Homo sapiens: one gene and its partner. The protein of the gene in region 2 purifies or fractionates together with the protein of the main gene of each other region. This does not show direct contact. Each region holds a gene or a part of one and is shown on either strand. Other genes may lie near its edges. The genes, in order: NFS1 and EEF1AKMT1.

Region 1 (3,820 bases), on a different chromosome or scaffold from region 2:
TGGCCAGTGGCTCCCATACAAACCAGAAAACACCAACAAATGCAAGAAACATGTCCTCCAGGCCAGGTACAGTGGCTCATGCCTGTAATCCCAGCACTCTGGGAGTCCGAGATGGGTGGATCACCTGAGGTCAAAAGGTCAAGACCAGCCTGACCAACATGGTGAAACTCTGTCTCTACTAAAAATACAAAAATTAGAGCCAGGCATGGCGGCTCATGCCTGTAATCCCAGCACTTTGGGAGGCCGAGGCAGGTGGATCACGAGGTCAGGAGTTCGAGACCAGCCTGGCCAATATGGTGAAACCCCATCTCTACTAAAAATATAAAAAATTAGCCAAGTGTGGCCGGGCACGGTGGCTCACGCCTGTAATCCCAGCACTTTGGGAGGCCGAAGTGGGTGGATCACGAGGTCAGGAGATAGAGACCATCCTGGCTAACATGGTGAAACCCCGTCTCTACTAAAATACAAAAAAACACTAGCAAGGCGTGGTGGTGCATGCCTGTAATCCCAGCTACTTGGGAGGCCGAGGCAGGGGAGTCGCTTGAACCCGGGAGGCAGAGGTTGCAGTGAGCCAAGATCGCGCCACTGCACTCCAGCCTGGCAATACAGCGAGACTCTGTTTTAAAAAAAAAAAAAAAAAAAATTAGCCAGGTGTGGTGGCACGTGCCTGTAGTCCCAGCTACTCAGGAGGCTGAGGCAGGAGAATCACTTGAACCCGGGAGGTGGAGGTTGCAGTGGAGTGCCACTGCACTCCTGCCTAGGTGACAGAATGAGACTCTGCCTCAAAAAAAAAAAAAAAAAAAATTAACTGGGCCTGGTGGCATGCGTCTGTAATCCCAGCTACTCGGGAGGGTGAGGCAGGAGAATCATTAGAACCCAGGAGGCGGAGGTTGCAGTGAGCCGAGATCGCGCCACTGCATTCCAGCCTGAGTTATAAGAGCCAAACTCTGTCTCAAAATAAAAAAAAGAAGTAACAAGTCCTCCAGAGGTTGCAGAGAGCTGAGATCAAGCCACTGCACTCTAGCCTGGGCAAAAGAGTGAGACTCCATCTCAAAAAAAAGAAAAAGAAACAAGTCCTCCAGAGAAAAGGAGGACAGTACACACTCAAGGGGAACATGATCTCGTTCTCTGCCAGGCTTATTTCTCTAAACTTCATCCTAACTGTTAGATCTATTCCTTCAAGCTCCAGCTAGGGCCCAAGAGAGAAATTTACAAGCTGAAGCCAGGCTCCTCCATTTTTGCTCCTCCTGCCAATAGCCACTCCTACCTTTAGGTCAATGATCCCACTCTTCTGCACTGGGAGGTAGGTGACCTGAAAGCCCTCAGCTTCCAGTGAACGGCAGGAGTCCAAGACACATTTGTGTTCTGTCTGGGTGGTGATCAAGTGCTTTTTCCGTGACCTGTAGAATCGGGCCACCCCCTAGAAATTGGTGGTGACAGATGGAAGGAGAACATACTCAGAGAGACAGCAATGACTTCAATCTCATTTGTAAAGGAAAAGTGGGCAAGAACAGTATGCTCCAACACCAGTTCTCTCATACCAACTGAGTATCCTATAATTCAATTCTGAGGCTAACTCTCCAGACTTAGTGAAAACCCCATGGGTTAAGGGCTCAATCGTACAAGACTGCCCCTAGTTCAGATACCAGACATAAGTCCCAGGGGTCTCAAGCTACCCATACTTCTGCCCAGTCAAATACAAATTCAGGGCTTCCCGAAGCCCGGTCAAGTTCAATAATTCACTAGAATAAATCACATTTGTCCAAACCCATAGAATGTACAACACCAGTGAATCCTAATATAAGCTATGGACTTTGGGTGATAATGATGTATCAATATCAGGTCATCAATTGCAACAAATGTACCACTTGATGGAGGATGCTAATAATGGCAGAAGGCTGTGCATACCTGGGGGCAGGGCATATATAGGAAATTTCTATACCTTCCTTTCAATTTTGCTGTGAACCTAAAACTGCTATAAAAAATAAAATCTATTAAAATAATAATAGTATACAGATTAATGTAGGTATTTAAAAATCTGGAGAAATATACAGCAAATTAGCAGTGAAAATGTGTTTAGAGTTCTACTCTATATTATTGGAATTTATGATTCATTCATTTAACCAATATTTAGCACCTCCAGTATCCCAAGTAATTTTCTAGGTGCCAGTGATATAACAGTAAACAAGTCATGAGTAGGTATTACTGTTAATATCACAAGAAACAATAAAGGTACATTTAAAAATTCCTGGAATTTCAACTATTACAAGAAACTAAAAAAAACATTTATCTCATTGAAGAAAAAAAAAAAGCGGCCAGGTGCAGTGCCTCACGACTGTAATCCGAGCACTTTGGGAGGCCGAGGCAGGTGGATCATCTAAGGTCAGGAGTTTGAGACCAGCCTGGCCAACATGGGGAAACCCCATCTCTACTAAAAATTAAAAAATAAGCCAGGCCCGGTGGCACGCACCTGTAATCCCAACTACTCAGGAGGCTGAGGGAGGGGAATCACTTGAAATCAGGAGGCAGAGGTTGCAGTGAGCCAAGAGTGCTATTGCACTCCAGCCTGGGCAACAGAGCGAGACTGCATCTCAAAAAAAAAAAAAAAAAAAAAAAAAAAGAACGCCAGGTGCAGTGGCTCATGCCTGTAATCCCTCCACTTTGGGAGGCTCAGGCAGGTGGATCACGAGGTCAGGAGTTTGAGACCAGCCTGACGAACATGGTGGAACCCCATCTCTACTAAAAATACAAAAATGGCCAGGCGCGGTGGCTCACACCTGTAATTCCAACACTTTGGGAGGCCGAGAAGGGAGGGTCACCTAAGGTCGGGAGTTCAAGACCAGCCTGACCAACATGGAAAAACTCCGTCTCTACTAAAAAAAATACAAAAATTAGCCAGGCGTGGTAGTACATGCCTGTAATCCCAGATACTCTGGAGGCTGAGGCAGGAGAATCGCTTGAACCCAGGAGTTGGAGGCTGCAGTGAGCCGAGGTCACGCCATTGCACTTCAGCCTGGGCAACAAGAGCAAAACTCTGTCTCAAAAAATAAATAAATAAATAAAAATAAAAATACAAAAATTAGCGAGGTGTGGTGGCACGCACCTGTAATCCCGGCTACTCAGGAGGATGAGGCAGGAGAATCGCTTGAACCTGGGAGGCAGAGGTTGCAGTGAGCCGAGATCATGCCCCTACACTCTAGCCTGGGCGACAGGGTGAGACTCCATCTCAAAATAAATAAATAAATTAATTAATTAAAAAAAAAAAAGGGGGCTGGATGTGGTGGTGGCTAATGCCTATAATCCCACCACTTTGGGAGACTAAGGCAGGAGGATCGCTTGAGCTCAGGAGTTCAAGACCAGCCTGAGCAACATCATCTATACTAAAAAAAAAAAAAAAAAAAAAAAAAAAAAAATTAGCCTGGCGTGGTGGTACACATCTGTAGTCCCAGCTACTCAGGAGGATCACCTGAGCCAAGGAGGTCAAGGCTGCAGTGAGCTGAGATCTGGCTACTGCACTCCAGCCTAGGTGAGATCAAGACTCTGTCTCAAAAAACAGAAAAAAGAAAAAAAAATGGGCCAGGAGCAGTGGTTCACACCTGTAATCCCAGCACTTTGGGAGACTGAGGCAGGTGGATCACCTGAGGTCAGAAGTTTGAGACCAGCCTAGTCAACATGGCGAAACCCCGTCTCTACTAAAAATACAAAAATTAGCTGGGTGTGGTAGCAGGCTCCTGTAATCCCAGCTACTCAGGAAGATGAGGCAGGAGAATCGCTTGAACCCTGGAGGCAGAAGTTGTAGTAAGCCAAGATTACGGCACTG
Region 2 (3,820 bases):
AAATTCTATACCCACAGTTAAACAGACATTATCAGAAACAAAAGCTGAGAGAATGCATCACCAGCAGAATTATACTACAAGGAATGTTCAACGAAGTCATTCAAGCAGAAGGAAAATGACACCAGCTGGAAATATCTTTTTTTTTTTTTTTTTTTTTTTTTTGAGACAGAATCTCGCTTTGTCGCCCAGGCAGGAGTGCAGTGGCAAGATCTAGGCTCGCTGCAAGCTCCGCCTCCCGGGTTCATGCCATTCTCCTGCCTCAGCCTCCCGAGTAGCTGGGACTACAGGTGCTTGCCACAACGCCCGGCTAATTTTTTGTATTTTTAGTGGAGACGGGGTTTCACCGTGTTAGCCAGGATGGTCTCGATCTCCTGACCTCGTGATCCGCCCACCTCAGCCTCCCAAAGTGCTGGGATTACAGGTGTGAGTCACCGCGCCTGGCCCACCATCTGGAAATATCTATACAACAGAATGAGGAGTTAAATATATGTATGAGTTTTTAATTTAACAATGTAGTGTGGCATTTATAACAAATGTAAAAGTAAAATGTATGACAACAATAACACAAAGGTTTGGAGAAGAGAAATGGATTTATGTATACTATTCTAAGCTTCTGTTTTTTTCTTTTTCTTTTTTTGTTTTTTTTGAGATGGAGTCTTGCTCTGTCGCCCAGGCTGGAGTGCAGTGGTGTGATCTTGGCTCGCTGCAACCTCTGCCTCATAGGTTCAAGCAATTCTCTTGTCTCAGCCTCCTGAGTAGCTGGGACTACAGGCGCCTGCCATCACACCTGGCTAATTTTTGTATTTTTAGTTGAGACAGGATTTCACCATATTGGTCAGGCTAGTCTCAAACTCCTGACTTCAGGTGATCCACCTGCCTTGGCCTCCCAAAGTGCTGGGATTACAGACGTGAGCCACCGCACCCAGCCATGTACCATAATTCTTAAGCAACCTCTTAAATAACAGAGTCACAGCTAGTAAGCTAGCAATGGAGAAAGAAATAGATTCATAAAATGTTTTCACTGCTATGTAGTGAATATATTTATACTGTAGGAATATACAACATTATATACTGTCTAATGGTTGGACATTTCAGTTGAGTTTAATTTTTTCTATTACATGTTTCTTTTTTTCTTTTTCTTTTCTTTCTTTCTTTTTTTTTTTTTTTTTGAGATGGAGTCTCACTGTGTCACCCAGGCTGGAGTGCAGTGTTGTGATCTCTGCCCACTGCAACCTCCTCCTCCCAGGTTCAAGTGATTCTCCTGCCTCAGCCTCCTAAATAGCTGAGATTACAGGCAGTGCCAACATGCCCAGCTAATTTTTTTGTATTTTTAGTAGAGATGGGGTTTCACCATGTTGGCCAGGCTGGTCTTGAACTCCTAACCTCATGATCTGCCCACCTTGGCCTCCCAAAGTGCTGGGATTACAGGTTTGAGCCACCACGCCCAGCCTCTATTGCATATTTCTATTTTGAGCATCTTTTCATATATGCCTACTTGATGTTAGACTTCTTAATTGCGGTCAATCTGGTAGGTGTATAGTGGTATCTCATTATGATTATAATTTGCATTCCCTCATGACAAGGTTGAATACCTTGTCATATGATGTTTGATTATCTGTATGTCATCTTTTATAAAGTGCCTGTTGAAATGTTTTTCCTATTTTGTCTTTTGGTATAAAAGAATTCTAAAAAAAAAAAAATTCAAGAAACATATATGAAAGCTAGAAAAGGAAACAAGAATTAAAACCAAGAGAAGAGGCCAGACGCAGTGGCTCATGCCTGTAATCCCAGCACTTTGGGAGCCCAAGGCAGGTGGATCACGAGGTCAGGAGTTCGAGACCAGCCTGGCCAACATGGTGAATCCCATCTCTACTAAAAGATACAAAAAATAGCCAGGTGTGGTGGCCGGCGCTTGTAATCGCAGCCACTGGGGAGGCTGAGGCAGGGGAATCGTGTGAAACTAGAAGGCGGAGGTTGCAGTGAGCTGAGATTGCACCACTGCACTCCAGCCTGGGCGAAAGAGTGAAACTCTATCTCAAAAAAAAAAAAAAAAAAAAAAAAACCCAAGGGAAGAAACAGAAAGCAAATAATGAAATAGGCTTAAGCACAATATATCAATAATAACATTAAGTGTAAAAGGTCCAGATGCACCAATAAAGGAGCTTATCAGTAAGGATTTAGTTTTTATTTTTATTTTATTTTATTTTCGAGTTGGAGTCTTGCACTGTTGCCTGGGCTGGAGTGCAGTGGCACGATCTCGCTCACTGTAACCTCTGCCTCCCGGGTTCAAGCGATTTTCCTGCCTCAGCCTCCCGAGTAGCTGGGATTACAGGTGCCCTCCACCATGCCCGGCTAGTTTTTTGTATTTTTAGTAGAGACGGGGTTTCGTTATGTTGACCAGGCTGGTCTCAAACTCCTGACCTCGTGATCCACCCGCCTCAGCCTCTCAAAGTGCTGGGATAACAGGCGTGAGCCACTGTGCCTGGCCAGGATTTTTTTTTTAGACGAAAACTATATGCTGCCCACAAGAAACTCACTTCAAAATTAGGGTGTGTGTGTGTGTGTGTGTGTGTGTGTGTGTGTGTGTTGAAAGTGAAAGGAAGGGGAAAATATATGCCATAGAAGCTTTTTTTTAAAAGCATGAGCACTTTTATTGATAGCAGGTAAAGTAGACTTATAAGAGTAAAGAAGTCACTAGGAACAACAACAGAATTACATAATGATAAAAAGAGTGAATTCATCAAGAACAAACAACAGTTCTAAGTATGTACGCACCAAACGAGAACAATTTAAATTACATGAAGCATGAAATAAAAACTGATAGAACTGAAAGGAAACAGACAAATCCACAATTACAGCTGGGTACTTCCATTCCCTCTCAGCAATCGATAGAACTACTAGATGGGAAACCAGCAAGGATACAGGGGACTTAATAACACCATTAACCAAAAGGATCTATTCACATTTATATAACCTTCACCCAACAACATCAAAATACACATTGTTTTCAAGTATTCATGGAATATTTCACCAACATAGACCATATCCATAGCTATTACACAAACTTCAGCATTTTTAAAAAGTGTTGAAATTATACATGCTAGAAAACCTAATAGGAAAATCTCCAAACACTTGGAAATTAAACAGTGTCCTTCTAAATATATGGGCCAGAGAGAAATTTAAAAGTACACTGAACTGAATGAAAATGGGTGAAAAAGGACAAAAATTTGCTGGGATGTTGCTAAAAGGGAATTTAAAGCACTGAACACTTAAATTAGAAGAAAGGTCTCAAAACAGTGTTCTAAACTCCCAGAACAAAAAGGTAGTTTAAAACAAATGCAAAGCAAGTAGAAGGAAGGAAATGAAAGGCAGAAATCAATGAAATTGAAAATAAAGTCAATGATGCAAAAACTTATTTTTTAAAAGAGATCAATAAAATTGATGAACCTTTAGTAAGAAAAAAGAGAAAACAGAAATTACTGACATTAGGAATGAAATGGGGGATATCAGTACAGATCCTAAAGACATTAGAAATAATTGAGGACTGCTATAAACATCTCTATCCAGATAAATTTTAACAACTTAGATGAAGCAGACCAATTCGTTGAAACTACAAACTACGAGAACTCACCCCATATGAAACTGATAATGTGAATAGCCGTGTAAGTATTAAATTGAATTTGCAGTTAAAGGCCTCTCATACAAGAAATTTTCAGGCCAGGCATGGTGGCTCATGCCTGTAATCTCAGCAGTTTGGGAGACCTAGGCGGGCAGATCACCAGAGGTCAGGAGTTTGAGACTGGCCTGGCCAACATGGTGA

The links.
Region 1: the proteins of EEF1AKMT1 (region 2) and NFS1 purify together in Homo sapiens (affinity purification with mass spectrometry; one large-scale study listed by BioGRID and IntAct). This does not show direct contact.

What each region holds. Positions count from the first base shown.
Region 1 is NC_000020.11:35,689,146-35,692,965, forward strand, and holds part of NFS1 (cysteine desulfurase isoform a precursor), read right to left. Parts: intron 3,226-3,820; exon of another isoform or gene 3,104-3,225; intron 1,421-3,103; coding exon 1,268-1,420; intron 1-1,267.
Region 2 is NC_000013.11:20,763,648-20,767,467, reverse strand, and holds part of EEF1AKMT1 (EEF1A lysine methyltransferase 1), read left to right. Parts: intron 1-3,820. UniProt on the Homo sapiens protein: Protein N-lysine methyltransferase that selectively catalyzes the trimethylation of EEF1A at 'Lys-79'.